Linked DNA regions of Homo sapiens: all the other regions are reported to be linked to region 1. The links are microRNA targets in miRTarBase. Many come from high-throughput screens and were not tested one by one. Region 1 holds a microRNA gene; each other region holds the end of a gene's coding sequence.
What was found. Region 1 holds the annotated microRNA hsa-miR-513a-3p (UAAAUUUCACCUUUCUGAGAAGG, at 2,376-2,398, opposite strand). A microRNA usually pairs through its seed, bases 2 to 8, with sites in the 3' UTR of a target mRNA and lowers its output. Matches are read on the target gene's strand: a 7mer-m8 pairs with bases 2 to 8, a 7mer-A1 pairs with bases 2 to 7 and ends in A, and an 8mer does both.

Region 1 (4,089 bases):
TAATAATTATTTACTTTTTAAGTGTGTTTACTTGCACTCTTAGCATACAGATATTTTTGGTTTTTAATTGATAACTGTAACAAACTGCCACAAATTTAGTTGTTTACACAACACAAATATATTAGAGTCTAAAGGTCAGAAATCTAAATTAGGTTTATCTCAGCTAAAATGAAGGCATTGGCAGGGCTTTGTTCCTTCTGTTGGCTCCAGAGGAGAATCTACTTGATTGTCTTTAGAAGATCATTCTTTGGCTCATGGACTTTACCTCCACCTCTATTGAATACTGTAGCATTTTCCAATGTTTCTCTTATTCTAACCACCTTCCTTCTACTTATAAGAACCCTTGTGATTATGTTGGACTCACCTAGATAATCTAGGATAATCCCAATCTCAAAATATTTAGTCATATCTGCAAATTTCCTTCTACCATAAAATGTGATGTTTTTGAGTTCAGGGGTTGCTCTGTAAACATCTTTTGGAGGGGGACTGTTATTCTGCATACCACAGAGATCCTATAATTTGTATTTAGAGTTTCACCTAAATATGTTATGTTTATATTATTTTATGTTTTAATTAGGTGGATTTAATCATTGTATAATATATACATATATCCAAACATCATGTTGTACACCTTAAATATATACAAAAGTTATGTCAGTTAAACCTTAATAAATTGGTAGAAACACGGATGAATGATACAAAAAAGTATTTCACTGAAAGAAAAACCACAAATAACAGTGAATAGAGTACTCTTTTGAGAAATCATAAAAGAGATATGATACTAACTAAATTCTCTTCTTTCGTTTTAGGATATGACTTAAAATTATATAAGTACACATGCATTCACTATAATACAGTTTTAGAAATTATATACTAAAAAGTGTTATCACTTTGGAAATTTCTATGTACATACAGCATTTCCAACTGACAGAATTTTTTTACTGTTCAGAATGTTCCCCCGCCCCCAATGAAAAAGATGCTATGTAATCTATTAGAGCAATTGTTTTAATATTGAAAAAGATACTTCAACTGATTGTTTTTTTACTTCCAGACATTAATGGTCTTAAACATATTCATCCATTCTGAACGTAACAAAACAAACTAAAATCCTGCCTGTAACCATATAGTAATTGTTTTTTATACTTTCTCCCTTTTGATGTATATGCTATAACCTCTATTTCCATTGGAATCAAATTTGTATTAATAACTTACTATTTATAACATTTTTAACACATTTCTGCAATATAAGTAGCTTATTTATAACCTACTTCTCAAAAATGCATACTAGTTTCATGCTGCAGATGGCCTCACACCATCCGGCACTTGTCTTACTCTTTTGCCCTCTCTCTCTTTTTTTGTGTGTTTGTGTGTGTGTGTATTTCCCTCTATCTCTCTCCATTAGGTTAAGAGTTAAGAAGTGTCAACACAAGAAAATGGGACCAGGCGTGGTGGCTCACGCCTGTGATCTCAGCCATTTGGGAGGCTTAGGTGGGTGGATCAGGAGGTCAGCAGTTCGAGACCAGCCTCATCAACATGGTGAAACCCCATCTCTACTAAAAATACAAAAAGTAGCCAGGTGTGTTGGGGCACACCTGTAATCCCAACTACTCGGGAGGCTGAGGAAGGAGAATCCCTTGAACCTGGGAGATAGATAGAGGTTGCAGTGAGCCCAGATCACACCGCTGCACTCCAGCCTGGGCGAAAGAGCAAGACTCTGTCACACACACACACACACAAAGAAAATGGGGAGAGAAGACTAGGAGATATCTCTTGAGTATCAATTCCATCATACCCTTCCATTGTTCATACATATTCTTAAAAAACGGGGAAAAAAGATAATGAAAAAGAGTGAAATATTCTTGGGTGGACTATGCTTAATCCTTCATAAATTGGTGACTTAAGGCTTTGAAAGGTATTTTAAAAGTCAATGAGAAAATGTTTTAGTCTTTGACAGAAAATGGACGCTGTGGATCAGCAATGAAGGGACCTGAGAGGCAGGAGAGTCTTTTGGGAGCGCTAAAGGAGAATCCTTGCAAATGATGACTAGTTGATAAGTGAAAAAAGTTTAGAGAATTTAGGAATCTGGAGTAAAGCATTCCAGCTGACGAAGAATGGCTGTGGCCTCTATCCAATGTATTTCCTATTTGAGCCAAGCCTCATTTGGCAAAAATAAATTCTTAAGGAACCTAAGTGCATGCGTTTTCTCAGGAGTCCACAATTCCTATGTACAGTCGTCTAGAAGGCACAAAAAGTTCCTTGAAGTGTAGCCCAGCACTGAGGAGTGGGTGCACAGGATGCAAAACAGGCATCACCATGCTCGCAGCTACACCCCCATCCTCAGGGACACCACATATGCAGTGCATGCTGTACATTACCCTTCTCAGAAAGGTGAAATTTATATTTTAGTTCACATAAATGACACCTCCCTGTGAAAGGCACTGTACGCTGAATGGCTGAATGTGGCATCCCAGACCAAATGCTCCCTTTTCATGCTGTTTTTATTCAAGTCCCTATAGGTGTATGCCTTCGCATGGCCACCAAGATTTATGCCAAGGGACAATGCAACTTGTAACCCCCAGCACTCCCCTTTTCATCCTGCCCCGAGTGAGATTTTGACATGCAGATTTTTGTTTTGTTTTTGTTTTCAGATGAAGTCTGGCTCTGTCACCCAGTCTGGCATGCATTGGCGTGATCTCAGCTCACTGCAACCTCCGCTTCCTGGGTTCAAGCACTTCTCCTGCCTCAGCCTCCCGAGTAGCTTAGGTTAAAGGCACACACCACCTCGAATGGCTAATTAACACGCAGATTTTTAGACTGATCAAGAATAGAGCTTTTCACTTCATCTCTTCCCCAAAGGCGAGTAATCCTTGTCTGAATTATCCCATTAGTTTTCACGTTAATTTGCTTGTCTCATTAAAAATCCTCAAAATCAGGCCAGGCACAGTGGCTCATGCCTGTTATCCCAGCACTTTGGTAGGCCAAGGCTGGTAGATCATCTGAGGTCAGGAGTTTGAGACCAGCCTGGACAACGTGGTGAAACTCCATCTCAACTACAAATACAAAAAATCAGCCGGGTGTGGTGGTGGGTGACTGTAACCCCAGCTAATCTGGATGCTGAGGCAGGAGAATCATTTGAACCCAGGAGACAGAGGTTGCAGTGAGCCGAGGTTGTGCCGTTGTGCTCCAGCCTGGGCAACAAAAGTGAAAATCCATCTAAAAAAAAAAAAAAAAAATCTTCAGAGTCGGCCGGGCATGGTGGCTCATGCCTGTAATCCCAGTACTTTGGGTGGTCCAGGTGTGCATATCACTTAAGGCCAGGAGTTTGAGACCACCCTGGCCAACATGGTCAAACACCATCTCTACTAATAATACAAACTTAGCGGGGTGTGGTGGCTCGCGCCTGTAATCACAGCTACTCAGGAGGATCACTTGAACCTGGGAGGCAGAGGTTGCAGTGAGCGGAGATAGTGCCAATATACTCCAGCCCGGGTTACAGAGTGAGACCCTGTCTCAAAAAAAAAACAACAAACAAACAAAAAAACCCCAAAAACTTTTAAAATTACAGTTAAGTAGGCAGGGCCAACCACTCACCAAAGCTCTCTATGGTCCTAAAACTCCAGCTGTGCTGCACAGACCCTAATTCCAATGGAAAAACCACAGAATACAACCACCTGGATCCAAACTACTAGAGAAGAGTCAGACAGTACCAGGTTGGAGAGAGCAGAAATTTAATTTCTTCTTCAGGCTATGCAGTGGGAAGAACCCATAGAAATTAATACGAGAGACAGACAAGACAGATAATGGGCTGGAAGACAAGAAATGCTATTTAATTTTTCTTAGTTCCATGGTTCTTTATAGTACATTTATTTGGGCTCAGTCTCTCTCTCTCGCTGTGTGATTAACAATTAATAGTGCTAGGATTTTTTAGCTTTAATATTTACTGTTTGCATTAATATATTTTCCATCCTTTTACCCAACTTTCACGTAGGTCTTCATATTTAAAATGGTTTCGTTTTAGAAAGTGTACAGCTGTTTCTTATTTTTACATAATTTGACAGTGTCTCTCTTAATTGAAGCATTTATATCATT
Region 2 (4,089 bases), not on the chromosome of region 1:
CCTGTAATTCCAGTTACTAAGGAGGCTGAGGCAAGATAATCGATTGAGCCTGGGTGGCGGAGGTTGCAGTGAGGCGAGAGAGCACCACTGTACTCCAGCCTGGGTGACACAGGGAGACTCCATCTCAAAAAAAAAAATTGCAAACTTTAAATATTGACATTTTTTATGAATAAGAAAGCTTTTTATTTTACAGGTCTTTGTGGGAAGAAACAGAAAGAAATCACAAAAGCAATTAAGAGAGCTCAAATAATGGGTAAGAAAGAATACCTCAACAACTGAATTGAGCTAGCTGAAATTTTGCTCATTATGTTTTGTCAAGAACTTTAATTATCTCTTTACAGGGTTTATGCCAGTTACATACAAGGATCCTGCATATCTCAAGGACCCTAAAGTTTGTAACATCAGATATCGGGAATAAATTCTATCACGTTACCACTAATAAACTTATTTTACAGTAAGTGGTTGTATGATGCCAATACTGACTCAAACCAACCTTTGGATAGAAAAGTGTTTGAGGAGTGAGGTAAAGAATGACACTTCCCCTTCATACCAATGTCCATTAAGCAGATTGCTTATTTAAAATGTTAACACTCATCACATTTTATCTATGTTGAATAAAAGTGGTTCTGTGTGATTGTCATTTATATCTGATCCCCAAATAGCTCATACAATAATCCATTCAATAGAATGGAATTAAAACTGTTCAGAATGATTTTCCAACTAGCAAATATAAGTATGCCTGGTTAAGATATCTTCCCTTTGTAGAAATGTTACATTGGGATGGATAGTGGTGCTGTCACAGAAGGACAAAATATTCCTAGACGAGTCTACCCTCAAACCAGTAGTGTCTTTTACATGAAGAGATGATTTACACCTAATAGACATTGAATATGATAGACATACATGTATATATGTATCAGTTCTGAGTTCCACTGGCCTATCCCAAATACACTGGATTACCAGGCTTGTACTGTATTCAAAATGATAGATTTGCTAAATTTCATGCAAAGGACTCTAAACTAGGGGAGAGATTACTGTTTGTGTTGTGTTATAGTTGTGTAATAATTAAGGCTGCCAGATTTAGCAAGTACAAATGTAGGACAAATTTAAATTTTAGATGATGTTTTGCAAATTTATTGCATGATATCCAGCATTTTATCTGGCAACTCTAGCCATAATGTACTTCTAAAAAAGTATCACTTAAGGAGAATTTTAATGACTCAGATAAATTTTCATATAAATTTCTTTCCATATTTTGAAAATAAGGCTATTCTTGCTTTTCCATTTTATTTTTTAATAGACATGGTCTCAATACGTTGCCCAGGCTGGTCTCTAACTCCTAACTTCAATCAATCCTCCTGACTTGTCTTCCCTAAGTGCTGGGATTACAGGTGTGAGCCACTGTGCCTGGTCTCACTTTTCCAATTCTAAAGAATGTGTCTGTGTAAGCCTTCCCCTCAACAACTTAGTGAAAGGTGAAAAAAAGGTTTGGAAATAAAAGCATCTGATGTTTGAAAAAGTACTTTGTGAAGTAAATGCACTAAGAGTTATCTGTGTATTACTGCAAACAGGTGAACATAGTAAAAACAAATGAACTTACTGCAAGTAGCTCAACATAGTAAAAACAATAGAAATGTTTGGCTTTACCCATCAGCCAAATAAAAAAATCTCCTTGTAAGGTTAAAAGGATCAAAATGTAGGAGACCGTGAATATTCACCAAAACCCTTCATCTTTTCAATTTCTTCATCTGTTTCTGGGCTGCTCATTTTGGATGCTTTATCTTGGTTACTACTACCAGTATCTGCTTTAGATCGTTTGTCTTGTGTATCTAACAACCGAGATCTCTTGAATTGCCATCTGTCATCTAAGTCTAAGGCTTTATGCTTAATGATTTGTGGTGTACTAGCTGGACTAGCTTCAGGAATGTCAGTGTGTTCTACCATTAAGGTCAGATTGTCTACTACATCGAGATGGTGGTTGTAGTTACAGCTACTTTTAGAAACATGTCTATTTTTTAAAGACATAACACATGAATGAAGAAATTCAGAATTTGGAAAAAAGGTCCGTAATGCCTGACAAAGAAAAATGTTCTCCTGAGGGTCTTTTTGGATGTTCTTCTCTCCTAAACAAAATAGAATAACAGTTCAACATATAACATTTCTTCTACAAAGCTTTTATAATTAACTATTTGTAAGTAAAATTAAGTCAAAAAGATTTTAACAGTTGTATTATCTAAAGTGAGGATAACATACATAATTCTGAATTCTAATTTATATGCCACAGTATTCTAAGACAAAATTAAAGTTGTGTTCTTTCATGTCAGCAATATAGCTACCATAGTATTATGTTCTTTAAAAGCACAGAAAGGGCCGAGCGCAGTGGCTCACACCTATAATCCCAGCACTTTGGGAGGCTGAGGCGGGTGGATCACTTGAGGTCAGAAGTTCAAGACCAGCCTGGCCAACATGGTGAAACCCTGTCTCTATTAAAAATACAAAAAAAATTAGCCAGGCATGGTGGCAGGCACCTGGAATCCCAGCGTTTCAGGAGGCTGAGGCAGGAGAATCGCTTGACCCCAGGAGGCAGAGGTTGCAGTAAGCTGAGATCACACCTTTGCACTCCAACCTAGGCGACAGAGCGAGACTCCGTCTCAAAAATAAATAAATAAATAAAAATTTTTAGCACAGAAAGTAGAGATGTGTTGTTTACTTACTTGCTGCCTGAATCTGTGCTCCTCTCCTTTTCTCAATTTCTCGTTTTAATCTGTTTACATCCTTTACTAGTTTATCTACTGCTTGTTCACTGTCTTCCACTTTTTTGCATATACTCTGCAAAATAAAGTAATTTAAGGGCATAGGTAATATTTCAAGCTGTGTACTAATACAGTCTAGATTCACAAATAATATAAAATCATTGGTGGTATATAATACCCAAAACTATTTGCCTTTTATATAAATTTTATTTATTTTCTGGAGGATGTCAGTAACAAGCACTTGTAGGTTATAAATAAGCCTTATAGGTTGTAAAATGCTTTTTCACATGTAACTTCTCATTTATACAGCTTTTATCATGCCAGTTAGTTCGCTGAAAATATACAGAAATAAACTGAAATATTAACTCATGGGCCAGCTGCGGTGGCTCACGCCTGTAATCCCAGCACTTTGGGAGGCTGAGGTGGGTAGACTACCTGAGCTCAGGAGTTCGAGACCAGCCTGGGCAACATGGTGAAACCCTGTCTCTACTAAAAATATAAAAAATTATCCAGGTGTGGTGATGCATGCCTGTAGTCCCAGCTACTCAGGAGACTGAGGCAGGTGAATCGCTTGAACCCAGGAAGCAGAGGTTGCAGTGAGCCAAAATTGCACCACTGCACTCCAGCCTGGGCGACAGAGTGAGACCCTGTCTCAAACAAAAACAAACAAAAAAACTTTGAAACAAAAAAAATACAGATGCAGAGTTACTGCATAAATTTAACACTAAGAAACTCACAGTAAGTGAAACAAAGTGACTATCTTACTATTACGAAAGGATACTATTGAAGATTTTTTCCTGTAAGAGAAACTACTTTTGAAAAGCAGATCACTTCTGTGTGTCTTTAGTTTTAAAAGTATGAATACCAGTAACTTTTGATGCCATAATTCCATTTGGGAATATATCTGAATAACAACAAAAATATAAGATGATGTTTCTTAGTATAACATAAAACAACTGGGGGAGGGGAGAACAACTAATTAGTAAAAAAAGCAACTAATTTCCAACTGTAGGGTAATAGTTGTTTTGCCAGTTTTAGTGGACACTTTTTAGGATGTCTGCCAAGCCTACTTTTTACAAACTTTTTTTGCCCTGACATAAGAGTTTGCCAGTTACCCCTGTACCCACCTTTCACCAGAGCTGACCCAAACAGAACCAATGAGATTCTTGCCTGGCAATCTGGAGGTATTACATAGCCAATTGGCAGATCTTATGCTCTAGAAGAGATCTAAATGCAGGAGCTGTGGGTTGGCTGTTTTCTGGCCTGCCAGTGGATGAAGAAACAAAAAGGTCTGGAAGGATAGCAATGTGCAGACACAGAAAGTTCTATGGCATTC
Region 3 (4,089 bases), not on the chromosome of region 1:
TTTCACACAGGGTGTTTCTTGCTCTGCCTCCCAGGCTGGAGTGCAGTGGCAAGATCATCACTCACTGCAGCCTCGAACTCCTGGGCTCAAGTGATCCTTTAGCCTCAGCTGCCTAGTAGCTGGAAGCACCACACCCAGCTAATTTTACTTTTTGTAGAGACGCGGTCTCATCATGTTGCCCAGGCTGGTCTCAAACTCCTGGCTTCAAACAACTCTCCTGCCTTGGCCTCCCAAAGTGTTGGGATTACAGGTGTAAGCCACCATGCCTGGCCAATTAATACTTTATATAAAAGTAAGTAAAGAGCTTAATTTTTCTAAATTTAAGACAAACATGCAGATTGAAAGGCAAGCCAAAATTAAATATTGCCAAGTCATTTTAATGATCAGAATTAGAGAATCAAGTGCAATTACTAGAGTTAAAGAAGTCAAATACTTTTCAATTTGAAATCTTATCTGAGGGAGAACACTATCTGATTACTTTTAGGAAGCAACTCAGAGGTCATACTGACCTTTTTTTTTTTTTTCTTAAGTATTTCTGAAATTTAAAGAAATAAGAATAGACTGGCTAAATTTTCAGGTCATTTGCAATTTTAAATTTTCTCATCATAAACTGCTTCAAGCTGTTTGATCACTTCCACTGATTACTACACAAGAAATAATTTGCACAATTTCCCTTACTTTTATATCATTTACATTTAAATACAGCCAAAAAATACCCATGAAAATCTAAGAAATGTTCATTTCTAAAACTAACAAACAAAATCAAACTACAAGTATTAAAGTGCCCACAAAAACATTTTGGAATACCATGGAGTTGAGGCAGGGAGTAACAACTCTCAAACTACTTTTATTTAATCTTACTCATATTTAAGAATAAGTTATCTTCAACAGACCTAATCTAATTGTGGAATCATTTCAAGGTATTTTGAATAATCATATCATTTATAGATATCAGAGCAGAACAAATTTTGGATTAAGTAAAGAACTATAATTATACTCTTAGGACATCTGCTGATGACAGAGGTTTCTCTGACACCAGTGACAAAGTAATATTTTCTGGGACCATTACAACATGCCTAGACAAATTAAATTTTTTAGCTTTATAACAAGAAAGCTCATAGAGTACAATTTTTTGAAAAATTGGTTAAATAGGTTATGTCACAGAGGAAACCTAATTTGCCTCTCTGCCACGGAAATTTTTAAATAAGCCAATAATTTAACATTATGAGATCTGAAGTAATTACTTTTCTATACGGCAAGCTCCAGCCCAGCCACCAGTACCTCCTTTACCATATCCAATGAATATTTTAACATGACTTTCCTGTAATGGTCTTCAGCTTTAAATGGATAGACTCTGACATCGATAATTCCTTAAAGACGTGCTTATTCCACAAGCTGTTCTTGCTTTTTCTGAGGACATATATATGTATACAAGCATTTTTAGATATTAATCATTTTTAAGCTTTTTTACTTAAAATCAAAAGTTTCCTTACAGTATGTTTCAAAGATAAAATCACATTACATTATTGGGGAAACTACTAGTTAAGACTCTAAAACGCACACAAGGCTGAGTGCAGTGGCTCATGCCTGTAATCCCAGCACTTTGGGAGGCCAAGGCGGGCAGATCACCTAAGGCCAGGAATTTGAGACCAGCCTGGCCAACATGCTGAGACCCCATCTGTACTAAAAAATACAAAAAAAAAAACAGCCAGGCGTGGTGGCGCACGCCTCTAGTCACAGCTACTCAGGAGGCTGAGGCATAAGAATCACTTGAACCCAGGAGGCAGAGGTTGCAGTGAGCTGAGACAGTGCCACTGCACTCCAGCCTGGGCGACCGAGCAAGACTCTGTCTCCTAAATAAATAAATAAAATGCATACAAAATAGTTGCAGTAGTACCTGCAGATAGATACAGGGATTAAAGGAAAAGGAATCCTTAGGAAAATTCTTTATCCTATCTAGAGTACCTCTTAAGCTCCCTCTGCTGGTTACCATTTAAATAAAGTAGGAAAAAATGTTGACCTTTTTTCTTTGAGGAGGTGATGGGAGATGCAGGATGAAGTCTGAAATTGATAATGTTACGGCTAAAATTGAAAGGGAGATTCTCTTAAAAGGGGGCTAAATCTAACTGATGACTATCTTCTGTAAGAAGGCTTTAAAAGGATTTCTAAACAGATTGGGGGAAGAGCGACTGAAAATAAGGGGAGTGATTACCAAGTTTGAATATGTTAATCATTAAATTGATATGCCAAAATGCAAAAGCATTTAATATAAATCAACTATAAACGATTATGACTTAACACTAGAAAAATTAAGAATTTAAATATATTTCACAAACTTCACCAGAACAAAAAACTTTTATCACACTATTTAATCTACTTAGTTTCAATATTAAGGTTTATTTTTTCTTCCAGATTGAAAGTAACAATTTAAATAATTATCAGGATATAGAAACAAATATCCATTCAGATAAAACATTACTGCTTAAAAGTGGCTAAGAAATATTTTGCATGTAATAAATATATTTCATGTTTAGGTTAACAGGCACCATCTTGAGAGCAGTTTGTTTTTTTTTTTTAGCTAATAAATAAATTACATTCAAGAAAACAAGGTGTTTATATCTGAGTATATCATTAAATGTTTTTCTTCATATAGCACCCAAACTTCAAACTGTCTAGAAAGTATCTCCTAAAATATAACTCATACCTTAAGTAATAAAAATAAAGGCCAAGAAAAAAAATCAATTTAAGACAAAATTTACAGTTTATATTCTTAATTCCCCATTCAATAAAATATCGATTGCCAATTTAATAAAAGTAAATGAACTGTATATATGCAATCTGTTAGCACTGAAAATCTGAAATATATATTTTTAAAAATCACTCTTTCTGACAGTATTTAAAATATTGCATCTCTGGTGGCAAACCTGAAAACAATCAAGCATCTTATTACCCTAGTTTTCATACCTACCCCATACCCCATCACTTTTTATCCTTTAACATCCATCCAGCATTTTTGTTGGTTTTTTTTTGTTGTTGGCAAATACACTTACTTATATCCCAAACACAAAACACTGACAATACTCCTTGGTAAACAAGGAAATCCCAGAACAGTCCAAGCCTACACAGCTTTGCTCCCGAAGTGTGGCACAGGCTAAACGACAGGCGAGAAAGAAACAATCGATGGCCCTTATTGATGCAGTCAGAATGCTCCTGAGAGTCCATAACTGTTTGAGAATTTGCTGATGTTATCCTGACAGAAGTTTCAGCAGATTTTGCAAACAAGTATCAGAGAATAAGTCTTTGATTGATAATTTTTCTATTTATTTCTGCCAAGGCGACTGAAAACACGAAAGCCTTTTCATCAGACAGGTTAGCATAGATGTCAATTTCCTTTTCCTGTTTCTCTGTTAAAAGAAAAAGGGAAAGTTTAATATAAAGGCAGTAGATGCAGTAAATTTAAATTTTTTAAAGCTTTCAAGTATTTCTTTAAATGACAGTATTATATATAATACTACAATATACATTAAATGTTACTATGCTACTGAACTAAAAAGTTTTTTAAATTATACAAAGGAGTTACTGAAATGAAGATTAAATGAAGACAATATTTATTTCTATACACAGGCACTCTAACAGCTACATAATTTTTCTAAGAATCTCATACATTTCTATCTCCTCACTGTCTCAATCAAAATGAATTTTCTCTGCTAGACGAAATTCACTCTGAGAGATGGTCCCCTTCTGAACATCAATGGTGACTTTATGAATACATTAACATATTCATCTTCATCTTCTTATACAGGAAATGACATTTATTTTTATTTTTCCCCTCTCGATTACAAATGTAATCCAAGTTCACAGAAAATTTGAAAAAGAAAATAAAAATCACTCGTAATCTCATGAGTCAGCAAAAATCACAATTAACATCTTGGTGTATATTCTTCCAAGTTACTTTTTCAGGATCCCCTGATTCTATTTTTGTTTATTTTGTTTTGACAGTCTAATCAAAGTTAAATGCATATAATTTACAATCAAATCATTTTTATAAAACTTGTTAAAAAAAAAAAACAGAAGTCCTTTGCCCCATAC
Region 4 (4,089 bases), not on the chromosome of region 1:
TGCAACTATCACCCCCATCCACCTTCAGAACGATTTGCGTCTTCCCCAGCTGAAATTCTATACCTGTTAAACACCAACTCCCCTTTTTCCTCTTCCCTCCGGCCCTCGGCAACCATCCTTCTACTTTCTGTCTCTATGACTTTGTGTCTTGTTTTTTTTTTTCTTTATCTCCAGCTTCCCAAATGCTGCCTGCTATATAGTAGGTGTTTAGTAAGTATTTGTTGAGTGCACGCGTGGGAAGGTGCCAGGGTGGGCGGGAGGGCTGGGAGCGGATGGCGGAGATGTTCAGACACAGCTGGGGTCGCGGGCGTCTGACTGCGAGCTGTCCTCTCTCCCGCAGGCCTGCTGCTCTTGGTGAGCCTGGAGGTGTTCCGGCATTCCGTGAGGGCCCTGCTGCAGAGAGTCAGCCCGGAGCCTCCCCCGGCCCCACGCCTCACCTACGAGTACTCCTGGTCCCTGGGCTGCGGCGTGGGGGCCGGCCTGATCCTGCTGTTGGGGGCCGGCTGCTTTCTGCTGCTCACACTGCCTTCCTGGCCCTGGGGGTCCCTCTGTCCCAAGCGGGGGCACCGGGCCACCTAGAGCCACGCGTGAGACTTCTCTAAGCAACCACCGAGCCCTTTGACCTTCTCCATTGTACCCCCAAGATCTTTTTGCCCCATCTCCTAGAGAAACTGTGTTCTCCCTGCTCGGGGGCCCATGTTTTTTTACACGCCTGCCTCCTGTCCCCTTATCCTTTCTCCCTCTGTAAATACGTTTTTCTCTGTGGCTGTATGTGGGTTGCTTGGGGGTGGGATGGGAAGAGGCTCTTTGCAAACGAGGGTCCCCAGAGAAGACTGGCGGGGACCTGATGGGGTAGCTGGGGTGTGGGGTTGGGGGATGAGGTCAGGGGGTCTTGGGTGGGAGTTGGGGGCCCCTTCATTTCCCAGGTCTGGATCGATTCACTTGCCGGGAGAGACTTTTTACAACTCATCTGCAGCTCCGGGTGCGGTTGGGGGAGATAGCGAAGGGTCTGGCCTCGCTGTGATCTGATTTGGGATTAAAGGTTTGGAAATTTAACAACTTTGCTTTGGAGTCTATTTGTGATGTGATCGTGCATTCTGGGGTAAAGAAAAGTGACCCCATATTCCCTCCAGAAACATACCCTCCAGAAACACTTTTAAGCCCAGAAGTCACATGAAAACGAACCCATACACAATGGTTGAGAGTGTGGAAAACACAATATATTTTTTATTTTTATTTTTATTTTGAGACGGAGTCTTGCTCTGTCTCCCAGGCTGGAGTGTAGTGCTGCAATCTTGGCTCACCGCAACCTCCGCCTCCTGGGCTCAAGTGATTCTCCTGCCTCAGCCTCGCAAGTAGCTGCGTTTACAGGCACGAGCCACCATGCCCAGCTAATTTTTGTATTTTTTTTTTTTTTTTAGAAGAGACGGGGTTTTACCATGTTAACCAGGCTGGTCTCGAACTCCTGATCTCAAGTGATCCACCTGTCTCAGCCTCCCAAAGTGCTGGGATTACAGGCGTGAGCCACCGTACCCCACCCAGATTTCCCCTTTACACATGACTCCTGTCATACGTGATTAGGATTTACCCCCAATGACCTTATTTTAACTTGATTATCTCTGTAAAGACCGTATCTCCAAATGAGGTCACATTCTTAGGTACTGGGGGTTAGGGTCCAACATATATATATATATATACATTTTGTAGGGGAGAACATTCAACCATTAACAGTGTATATATTCTAAATTGTGTTTTCTGGTCGGGTGTGGCGGCTCACGCCTGTAATCCCAGCACTTTGGGATGCCAAGGCGGGTGGATCACCTGAGGTCAGGAGTTCAAGACCAGCCTGGCCAACACGGTGAACCCCCGTCTCTACTAAAAATACAAAAATTAGCTGGGTGTGGTGGCAGGCACCTGTAATCCCAGCTACTCGGGAGGCTGAGTCAGGAGAATTGCTTGAACCTGGGAGTTGGAGGTTGCAGTGAGCCGGGATCTCGCCACTGCACTCCAGCCTGGGTGACAGAGCAAGACTCCGTCTCAAAAAAAAAAAAAAAAAAAAAAAAAATCAAAAAGGTGGGGGGAAGGGGGATTGGTTCAGGAAAGCCTTCCGAAGAAGATGACGAACTTGAGTCTTCAAGGTGAGTAAGAATCAGAGAAAGTGGAGAACGTCACGGGCGTTCCAGCTGGGTGGGAGAGCCTGGACAGAAACAAGAGGAAAAACATGATGAACCTGTGAGTGAGGAAATGTGAACGCTGGTGTTCAGAGTGAGACACAGGAAACGTGAGAGGGTTGGGGTGGGCTGTCTTATGAACAAGGTGGAGAGACTCAGATGCTCAACAGAACAGCTTGGCCTTTACCCTGAGGGTACTGAGGAGCCATGGGAGCTTGCTGAGCAGAGACACACTGGCATCAGGTCAAGGGGTTGAAACAAGGTTTCTTATTCTTGAAGTCACTAAATTGCAGACCCGGAAGACAGACTAGTGGTTGCCAGGTGTTAAGAAAAGGGTGAGTCTTGGCCCCACGCGACGGCTCATGCCTGTAACTCCAGCACCTTGGGAGGTCGAGGCGGGTGGATCACCTGAGGTCAGGAGTTCGAGATCTGCCTGGCCAACATGGTGAAACCCTGTCTCTACTAAAAACAAACAAACAAACAAAACAAATCAACAACAACAAAACATACAAAAATTAGCTGGGTGTGGTGGCTCACATCTGTAATCCCAGCACCTTCGGAAATGCCTGTTCTAATTTAGGTCCATGGGCACAGGCCCTAGGGTAGAGCCCTTGCCAGAGACCCTGCCCTTCTCTACCCAGCAGTTCTCTGCCCCCCTCCCATATCAAAATGCTTTTTCTGCATCTATTGAGATGATCATGTGATTTTATTTTTATTTTTATTTTGCAGTCTCACTCTGTCGCCCAGGCTGGAGGGCAGTGGTGCGATCTCGGCTCACGGCAACCTCCGCCTCCCGGGTTCAAGCAATTCTTGTGCCTCAGCCACCCCAGTACCTGGGATTACAGGTGTGCGCCACCAGACCCAGCTAATTTTTGTATTTTTAGCACAGATGGGGTGTCACCACGTTGGCCTGGCTGGTCTTGAACGCCTGACCTCAAGTGATCGTCCCACCTCCGCCTCCCAAAGTGCTGGGGTTACAGGCGTGAGCCACCGCGCCCAGCTGACCATGCGATTTTTGTTTCTAATTCTGCATTCTTCCATTCAACAAGCAGAAGTGCCCCGCAGTGCCTGGGCACCTGGGAGCCAGGCTGGTGTGAAAGCCCAGCTCCCCGACCTATGGCTGGGGCAACAGCTTCACCTCTCTCTGTCTTCGTTCCTTCATCCCTAAAGACGGTGCGTGAGCTCAATCCTGTACCTACTCCCAGGAGTCACCGTCGGGAGTAAACGCCATCATGAGCCCTGCAAAGCTCCCAGGAGACCGCCTGGCACGTGGTCGCAACTCGATCTGCCTTTGCTGTTAGTTTTTCTCAAGTGGCACTTACAGAGTAAACAGGGACCCCCGACGACGAGCTGACAGCCTGCTGATGGAAACAGATACTAATCACATCACTGAAGTAATGAGCGTGCAATTATAAACCAAGTTAAGTGCTAGGAGACAAGAGAGTCCACAATTTTTTTTTTGTTGTTTGACTTTGTGCCCAGCCAGGTCAGGGAAGCCTCAAGAGACATCTGCCATGGGGGTGGCGGAGATAGTTGGTCTTGGGGGAATGGCCCTTCCTTCCTTCCTTCCTTCCTTCCTTCCTTCCTTCCTTCCTTCCTTCCTTCCTTCCTTCCTTCTTTTCTTTCTTCCTCTTTCTTTCTTTCTTCTCTCTCTCTCTCTCTTTCTTTCTTTCCTTCTTTCTTTTTCTTTTTTTTTTTTTGAGCCGAAGTCTCGCTCTGTCACCCAGGCTGGAGCTCGGTGGTGCAATCTCGGCTCACTGCAAGCTCCACCTCCCAGGTTCACGCCATTCTCCTGCCTCAGCCTCCCGAGTAGCTGGGACTACAGGCGCCCGCCACCAAGCCTGGCTAATTTTTTTGTATTTTTTTTTAGTACAGACGGGGTTTCACCTTGTTAGCCAGGATGGTCTCGATCTCCTGA
Region 5 (4,089 bases), not on the chromosome of region 1:
TCCAGACGCCCCCCGCACCCGCAAGAAGCGCTGCCCTTATTCGAAATTCCAGATCCGGGAACTGGAGCGAGAGTTTTTCTTCAACGTGTATATCAACAAAGAGAAGCGGCTGCAGCTGTCCCGGATGCTGAACCTGACGGACCGACAAGTGAAAATTTGGTTTCAGAACAGAAGGATGAAAGAAAAGAAACTGAGCAGAGACCGGCTGCAGTATTTCTCGGGAAATCCTCTGCTGTAACCTGCAGACCGGGCCCTTTTGGGGGCGGGGGGAGGGGAAAATTATTTTATTTTATTTTTATTTTTTATTTTCTAACTCGTCTTCTTTCCGCCGGTGGAAAACTGGACTGTGGCCAGGGCTGGCCCCCACCGCTGTGGCCGGCACTCCATTCCGGAACCTCCTGGACCCTCTATCTGACTCTCGCTGTGGGACAGGGACCGGGCCTGGAAAGGGGGTGAAGGGAAGTGTCTGATGCACGGCGAGTGAACACCGTTGGCGCCGAGGCCAAGACTTTGATTTAAAAGAAAACACACCTCGGCGACAATGTCTTGCTGCTCGGATTAGGTGGGGGAGGGGCGACAGTAGTGAGCGCCTGAGCCGAACAATCCTCGAACTAAAAGCCTTCCCTTGCCCATGTGAAAAGATCCGCTAAGACAGCATGTCTGCCAGCGGAAACTTCTCGAGCTCCCCCCTCTACCCCGCCCCACCTTGCAGCTAAATGTGATCCTGCCTTGCTGTGAAATTTCTGTACCTTCAACCTGGTGTTAGGTGTGCAAAGTCCGTGTCCTACCTCCGTCTTCGCCAAGGCCCCGCCCGAGCCTAGTTGTTCTCCCCCTGAATGTGTAGAACCTTCCTTTGAAATTTCTTAATCGGTGCATTGAGGTTTCCACATCTTTTTCCAAGCAGTGCCCCACTTCATGGATTTATAGCTATAGTCTATGCAGTCGTTACCTCTTTTTTTTTTTTTTTTAAGAAAATTGAAGATTGGGGTGGTGGAGGCAGTAGGGAGATGGGATTGGGCACCTCCCCCGTGCTGGGGCCTGGATTTTTGTAAATAAATTTCCCAAGCGTTTCTTTCCACCTGGAGGGAAAGGGGGGGACGCCCCCAGTGAGATTCAAATCACGCATCTCTACTCCTCTGCGTGAGTGCGTGTGTACATGTGCACTCCCCACCCTGCTCCCTTCCCAGAGGGATTGCTGTGAAATTTTTTTGGTGGCAAATAAAGATAAATTTCATTCTGTTCAATATTATGATTTTATTTGACCCTTTTATTAACCCCTCTCCTCTTAAAATCCTCCATGCTCCCATGGCAGCGGCGGAGGAGGAGGAGGCAGGCAGGCAGAGCCCAGCGGGTGAGGACAGGCAGGCAGAGGTGAGATAGGCCGGTGCTAGCCGGCCTGGAGCTCCTCTCCGCTGGCAGGGCCAAGAGTATGGCCGTAGTCTCCTCACATTCTCAAGCTGAGGACATTCCATAGCTACTCTGAAGCTCTCCTTTCTCACGTGCAGCTCGAGCTGTGTCCAAACGCCCAGCAACGGCTTTCTGTTTAAGTACACGTTTGTTGTGGAGTTAATTGTAACCATCATCGAATTTAAATTTATAGGAATTTTTTTGGCTCCACCGCCCTTCTGCCAGATGTCTCCGTCTGTCGCAGTTAAATGTGTAGTGTGGAGGTTAGGGCTTTTTTTTTTTTTTCTCTAGGAGAAATCTGTATTGGAATTTTTATACACTGTTTTTAAGGAAGGAGGGGACAGAAGGAGAAACCAGCCCCCTCCCTCTCCTCTCCACAGCTCCTGGGGGTGGGAAGGTGGGGCCTGGCTGCTTTCCCTCTGGCACAAATGGCCAGGCTCTTCCAGACACAACAAGACGCCTATACTGGGGCCACCCTGATGTTTATACATTGGGTGTCCCACAGTAGAAAGCCCCAGAGGTTTGTTTTGTAGGGGTTGGCACTGGGGATGGAGATGACCTGCGGGGACAGTCACCATACCCATCTATATTTGCTGCATGTTTCTTCTGTATAAAGATAATCATGGCCCTTGCAGTGCTTTCAGTGAGGGCACTTCGTTGGTCTCTGTTTCAAATTCGTTATTTGGGGGCAGAGGTTCAGGACAACTCATCTCATCTTTCCCTCCTCTTTCTGTCTTTGTATAATTCAAAGAAAATATTTTTGTCAATACAATTCTGTTGGATGAAAGGAAAAAGCATCATGACTATCAAATCTAGGTTCTGTCATTTTTGATGGTAGGAATCCCTGCAGCTTAGGTATCTAAATTTCTAATTTGTAAACGTGGGTCGGGTCGTGAGACAAGATTTGCAAACTAGGGTGTATATGCAGCCCACAATTCCCTCATGTGCCCACACACAAACGTTTTATTTAACTCGGTGTGCCTATGGGTGCACATAAGAAGGAATATTATTTATATGCTTTTGTCTGTTGCATGGAGTAAACCTGACCACATACACATCTAGAGCTTGTGTCTCTGTGGTGTGTAACCATTGGCAGTGTTTGTTGAGTGTGGGCAGGAATGCAACTGAGGGGCCTCTGTACATTTTTGTGTGTGTATGTGTGTGTGACACTTCTCTAGGTATGATGTTTATCCACTAGCCACATTAGGAAATATTAGCCTGCTGGTGATGTTTCCTGTGAAATTAGGATAGAGGAAACTCTATAAGGTGAACCTATTTATAAAGCAAAATATTAGCCTCCAAATGCCTGATTTTGGAGAAAAATATTTAAAACCCGCAGGTAACACTTTCTCTGCAATGTGGAGCCCAGAAATGTCCTCAGCTCCAAAAGAGAGTTCTGGTGGATGAGAGGAGAAGGTCATCATGAAAGAAAAACAAAGGCTTCTGTGACCCAAGCCAGGAATCTGCCAGTCCTTGGTGACCCTCTAAAAAGGAGGAAAAAGGGTTTTTTGGCCCCCAAACAAACCCACCTTCCGTCTCCCAAGGTGTCCAACCCCCCTTGCAGGTCAGGGGCACTCTGGGCTCAACCTCTTGGGGTAATCCCCTCTAGCCGCAGCACTGCCCGGGAACAAAAGATCCTCGTCTAGACGCTGCCATAAAGCACCCCCTCACGTTTCTAAACCCAGTTTCATTTCGACCTTAACGACCCAGTCTGGCCTGTATTAGAAACCACTTCCGCCCTAAATAGTAAACAAACCTGTAGTGGAGGGTCTTGGCTCTCCCAACACACTCAGACCCCCACCTCCTCAGCCCGTTGCCCCACATTTTTCCTCTTTTCTCCAGCCTTTCTCAGCTCCCAGCACCCCAGCCCCTTTCCTCCCCGCCGCGCCCACCCCACCCCCCCGCCCCAGTAAATAAACCTGAGGCCGAGTTCAAAGTTTCCCGGAGCTAAGGAGGAATGCTGGTTGTAAAAATCCAAGTTTATAGTGCACGTGGGAGTTTACAAGGGTATTAAGTGGTGTGGGCTGAGAGAGCACTCTGGGCCCCTCCCCCTTCCACCATGGGCTTTGGGGTGCAGGAGGAATCAAGGGCACTCGAAATGAGAAATGGGTTTAGGAGTAGCCTTGAGTTTGGGGTTTCTTTGTCACTTAGACTCTTAGGTGGCTGAGGAATGGCGATGCAAGGGCCCCTTGTAAGAAGACTCGAAACCCCTGCCAAGCACCTCTGAGAGAAAACTCCCTGGCTCTAGTTGTCCCAGATGGAAAGATTGGGGAGCCCTGTTCTGGGGGAGCAAAAGGTGCAAACCAGGTGTCTGAAAGGTGAACAGAGTTGGGAATACCTAGAGCCAGTTCTCAACCAGAAGGGGAGAAACTACCTTGGGCTAATTTCTCGAGTGGGCTGAGAGCAGAAAGGGCTCTTCTCTTAAGAGTAAAGAAGAACTTTGAACTTCAAGGGAGTCAAGGGCACCACCCCTTCGCTTTCCCCGCCTCTCTCAGGAATCCGTAGGGCAATTGTTTCTGGGCCAGTATTCCCTGAAGGGGGGAGCTACTGGGGTTTTCTGGTGCCCCAGGGTTGGATAATGCTGTTTGCTAACCCCTCCCTACTGAGAGCCCGCCAGAACCAGTGCACGCGACTGCACTCTTTATTATTCATATAAACCTTTGGAAAAGGCAACGCCCAGGA
Region 6 (4,089 bases), not on the chromosome of region 1:
TATAGCCGAAGATAGTCACAGGAACTATGATAAGAGCAGGCACATGTGAACATTTGTAGTAAACACACCCTGCATGTGGCAGGAGAAGCTGATGTGAACAAAATCAACTGCTCGAGGTTTTGCTTCATCAGTTTTATTGGTCATATATCCAGAATTCATCATATATAAATCTTTCAAAATAATGAGCTATTACAAGAATAGTTTACAAGTCAGCTCTGACTGCACAAATACTTGACACAGGAAACCATTTTTACAAATACATATGTTTTCTTATAATACTGTAATAAAGAAAATAAGTCTGTATACATCCTACGACAAATTTTGTAGTCTCTTTTTCCCATTCAATCATCGTTTCAGGTTTTCTATTACAGAACGTCCATCACATCCAATAAACCAAATTACAATCTGCTGCTTCTTCTCATTTTCAAATACTATAAAGATTCACACTGTTAAAGGGTTTTTTGGGTTCCTTTTCTAATCTTTCCTGATTTGAAAAGAATCCATGTATCTAGGCTAAAAGAGGTAACTTCAACAATATCCCTCTTGACTAGAACTTCTATCTGATTAATCATTGTTTGGTGAATTATCTTTTCACTTCCTACTTAGGCTAGGCCAGGTGGTAGTTTTACCCCTGCTGATAAAGTCCTGACATTCCTAATAGTTCCTAAACTGCAAATAAAAAACCCTAGAAACGAGTGAAATAGAAAAGAAAGCTAAACCACTATTGATTAGAGAACACACTCAAATTCAGGGTCTCTCCCAGGTTGAAGAAGACAGAAAAGCAATAAAGTATAAGGATGTGGCAGTAGTTGTATAAAATACTGAAAATCTGAAAGAGTCATCACTTAAGCCAGTAGTGTATCATTTCCAAAATGTCAGAGGATACAGAATCTTAGACTCTGTGGCTAGGCTGAACTCAGAATCTCAGACTCTGTGGCTAGGCTGACATTCTTATGCTGTGGCTTTGAAATAGCCTAATAAATATCCACTTGCCCAGAGCAAGTAATCATTTAGGCCAGGGGAACTTTACAGAATACTGACCATGTTTGCCTGAAGAGATAGGAACCACCAGGGCAAACATTTGGTATTCACTCCACTTCACTGTTACTGAAAAGCATCCACTTGGCAAAGCCTGTTGTTTTACTTTTCAGGTGATGTGAATTAAAATTAAGAAACTAGCAGTATTCTACTACAGTCAAGTTCCTGAGTACTCAGCTCCAATTATCTAATATTCTTGAAAGGATGCTGATATGGTTTGGTTGTGTCCCCCCACAAATCTCAACTTGAATTGTATCTCCCAGAATTCCCACGTGTTGTGGGACAGACCCAGGGGGAGGTAATTGAATCATGGGGGCCAGTCTTTCCCGTGCTATTCTCGTGACAGTGAATAAGTCTCATGAGATCTGATCAGTTTATCAGGGGTTTCTGCTTTTGCTTCTTCCTCATTTTTTCTTGCCACAATGTAAGAAGTGTCTTTTGCCTCCCACCATGATTCTGAGGCCTCCCCAGCCATGTGGAACTTTAAGTCCAATTAAACCACTTTTTCTTCCCAGTCTCGGGTATGTCTTTATCAGCAGCGTGAAAACGGACTAATACAGTAAATTGGTACCAGTAGATTGGGACCTGCTGAAGAAATACCCAAAATGTGGAAGTGACTTTGGAACTGGGTAACAGGCAGAGGCTGGAACAGTTTGGAGGGCTCAGAAGAAAACAGGAAAATGTGGGAAAGTTTGGAACTTCCTACAGACTTGTTGAATGGCTTTGCCCCAAATGCTGATAGCAATATGGACAACAAAGTCCAGGCTGAGGTGGCCTCAGATGAAGATGAGGAACTTGTTGGGAACTGGAGTAAAGGTGACTCTTGTTATGTTTTAGCAAAGAGACTGGCAGCATTTTGCCCCTTCCATAGGGATTTGTGGAACTTTGAACTTGAGAGAGATGATTTAGGTTAACTAGCGGAAGAAATTTCTAAGCAGCAAAGTGTTCAACAGGTGACTTGGGTGCTTTTAAAGGCATTCCCTTATAAATAAGGGAAGCAAAGCATAAAAGTTTGGAAATTTGCAGCCTGACTATGCAATAGAAAAGAAAAACCCATTTTCTGGGGAGAAATTCAAGCCAGCTGCAGAAATTTGCATAAGTAGCAAGGAGCCTAATGTTAATCCCCAACACCATGGGGAAAATGTCTCCAGGCCATGTCAGGGCAGCCCCTGACATGTGTGTGCAGCCTAGGGACTTGGTGTCTTGTGTCCCAGCCACTCCAGCCATGGCTGAAAGGGGCCAACATACAGCTCGGGCTGTGGCTTCAGAGTGGAAGCCCCAAGCCTTGGCAGCTTCTATGTGCTGTTAAGCCTGCAGGTGCACAGAAGTCAAGAATTGAGATTTGGAAACCTCCGCCTAGTTTTCAGAAGATGTATGGAAATGCCTCAATGCCCAGGCAAACGTTTGCTGCAGGGGAGAGGCCCTCTCAGCGGCAGGGGAGAGAACCTCTGCTAGGGCAGTGCAGAAGGGAAATGTGGTGTGGGAGCCCCCACACAGAGTCCCTACTGGGGCACTGCCTAGTGGAGCTGTGAGAAGAGGGCCACCGTCCTCCAGACCCCAGAATGGTAGATCCACCAACAGCTTGCACCGTGCACCTGGAAAAGCCGCAGGCACTGAACAACAGCCGTGAAAGCAGCCAGGAGGGAGGCTGTACCCTACAAAGCCACAGGGGCAGAGCTGCCCAAGACCATGGGAACCCACTTCTTGCATCAGTATGACCTGGATGTGAGACCTGGAGTCAAAGGAGATTATTCTGGAACTTTAAAATTTGACAGCCCTGCTGGATTTCGGACTTGCATGGGCCCTGTAACCCCTTTATTTTGGCCAATTTCTCCCATTTGGAACAGCCGTCTTTAATCAATACCTGTACCCCTGTTGGTATCTAGGAAGTAACTAGCTTGCTTTTGATTTTACAGGCTCATAGGTGGAAGGGACTTGCCTTGTCTCAGATGAGACTTTGGACTGTGGATTTTTGCGTTAATGCTGAAAAGAGTTAAGACTTTGGGGGACTGTTAGGAAGGCATGATTGGTTTTGAATAGTGAGGACATGAGATTTGGAGGGGCCAGGGGTAGAATGATATGGTTTGGCTATGTCCCCACCCAAATCTCAACTTGAAATTGTATCTACCAGAATTCCCACGTGTTGTGGGAGAGACCCAAGGGGAGGTAATTGAATCATGGGGGCCAGTCTTTCCCATGCTATTCTTGTGATAGTGAATAAGTTTCACAAGATCTGATGGCTTATCAGGGGTTTCCACTTTTGCTTCTTCCTCATTTTCTCTTGCTGCCATGTAAGAAGTGCCTTTCACCTCCCGCCATGATTCTGAGGCCTCCCCAGCCATGTGGAACTGTAAGTCCAAGTAAACCTCTTTTTCTTCCCAGTCTCGGGTACGTCTTTATCAGCAGCATTAATACAGACTAATACAGATGCTTGAAGCAAGCCCTTGTCCAATAAGGTATTTAATAGCACTTAGGGACTATTAGATGTCCCATTTCTCTTCTCTTTCATTTCTCTTATCTCTTCTCACCCCAGTGTAACGAATCGCTACAGGTTTTTACCAAAATGCTGCAGCAGTAGTTGGAAATGAGTTATTTTGCATTACTAAAGTGTTCAATCACATTATCACGGGTCACATTTGTATATAACCAGGAGATGGCCAAATAACATCTACTGCAGTGATTTTGCAAATTCAGCATAGTCAATGTATCCATCATTGTTCTTGTCATCATCTCTCAAAACACCATCTATTATGTTAATCAGTTCATCTTCACTCATTAGTGGTGCCTGTTCACTCCCTTCCTACAAAATACAAATTAGACAATGATGAGTTGCGCATTTTACCGGAAGAAGTGCTTAACTAACGTCCAAAATATCCATGTTCTTTCATGGCACTGTTTATTAAAAAAAAAAAAAAAAAAAAGGAAAAACAAAACAACAAAATATCCACGCTCATATGTGTCCAAAAACTTTCAATGGAGTATGGGGCTACTTCTAGGAATCTAGATATATAGAGAGAGAATATGTATTATTGAGTCAATTTATCATAATCC

Region 2: miRTarBase lists MRPS18C as a target of hsa-miR-513a-3p. Seed matches in the 3' UTR shown: 7mer-A1 at 1,103-1,109 and 7mer-A1 at 1,130-1,136.
Region 3: miRTarBase lists C16orf87 as a target of hsa-miR-513a-3p. Seed matches in the 3' UTR shown: 7mer-A1 at 1,087-1,093, 7mer-A1 at 592-598, 7mer-A1 at 567-573 and 7mer-A1 at 316-322.
Region 4: the mRNA of CACNG6 is a reported target of hsa-miR-513a-3p. Seed matches in the 3' UTR shown: 8mer at 1,048-1,055.
Region 5: miRTarBase lists HOXC11 as a target of hsa-miR-513a-3p. Seed matches in the 3' UTR shown: 7mer-m8 at 737-743, 7mer-m8 at 856-862, 7mer-m8 at 1,200-1,206 and 7mer-A1 at 1,591-1,597.
Region 6: the mRNA of MCFD2 is a reported target of hsa-miR-513a-3p. Seed matches in the 3' UTR shown: 7mer-m8 at 1,963-1,969.

Annotation. Positions count from the first base shown.
Region 1 is chrX:147,211,123-147,215,211 of GRCh38, forward strand. It overlaps MIR513A1 (microRNA 513a-1), which reads right to left and starts at 2,469; the gene lies at 2,341-2,469. All of the region lies in intron 1 of LOC105373347 (periphilin-1), which reads left to right.
Region 2 is chr4:83,460,780-83,464,868 of GRCh38, forward strand. MRPS18C (mitochondrial ribosomal protein S18C) reads left to right here. Exons shown (of 6, transcript NM_016067.4): 5 at 194-253; 6 at 342-1,519. The coding sequence ends at 418. ABRAXAS1 (abraxas 1, BRCA1 A complex subunit) reads right to left here. Exons shown (of 9, transcript NM_139076.3): 8 at 2,715-2,829; 9 at 1-2,123. The coding sequence ends at 1,690. Among named protein-coding and RNA genes, the nearest start is that of MRPS18C, 6.8 kb to the left of the region's middle.
Region 3 is chr16:46,799,667-46,803,755 of GRCh38, forward strand. C16orf87 (chromosome 16 open reading frame 87) reads right to left here. Exons shown (of 4, transcript NM_001001436.4): 4 at 1-3,404. The coding sequence ends at 3,286. Among named protein-coding and RNA genes, the nearest start is that of C16orf87, 29 kb to the right of the region's middle.
Region 4 is chr19:54,011,611-54,015,699 of GRCh38, forward strand. CACNG6 (calcium voltage-gated channel auxiliary subunit gamma 6) reads left to right here. Exons shown (of 4, transcript NM_145814.2): 4 at 341-1,056. The coding sequence ends at 579. Among named protein-coding and RNA genes, the nearest start is that of CACNG6, 22 kb to the left of the region's middle.
Region 5 is chr12:53,975,176-53,979,264 of GRCh38, forward strand. HOXC11 (homeobox C11) reads left to right here. Exons shown (of 2, transcript NM_014212.4): 2 at 6-2,468. The coding sequence ends at 238. Among named protein-coding and RNA genes, the nearest start is that of HOTAIR, 2.3 kb to the left of the region's middle. RefSeq lists enhancers at 102-251, 3,741-4,089.
Region 6 is chr2:46,901,757-46,905,845 of GRCh38, forward strand. It overlaps MCFD2 (multiple coagulation factor deficiency 2, ER cargo receptor complex subunit), which reads right to left. Exons shown (of 4, transcript NM_139279.6): 4 at 118-3,838. The coding sequence ends at 3,707. The region is part of intron 1 of MCFD2-AS1 (MCFD2 antisense RNA 1); the gene reads left to right. Among named protein-coding and RNA genes, the nearest start is that of MCFD2-AS1, 4.5 kb to the left of the region's middle.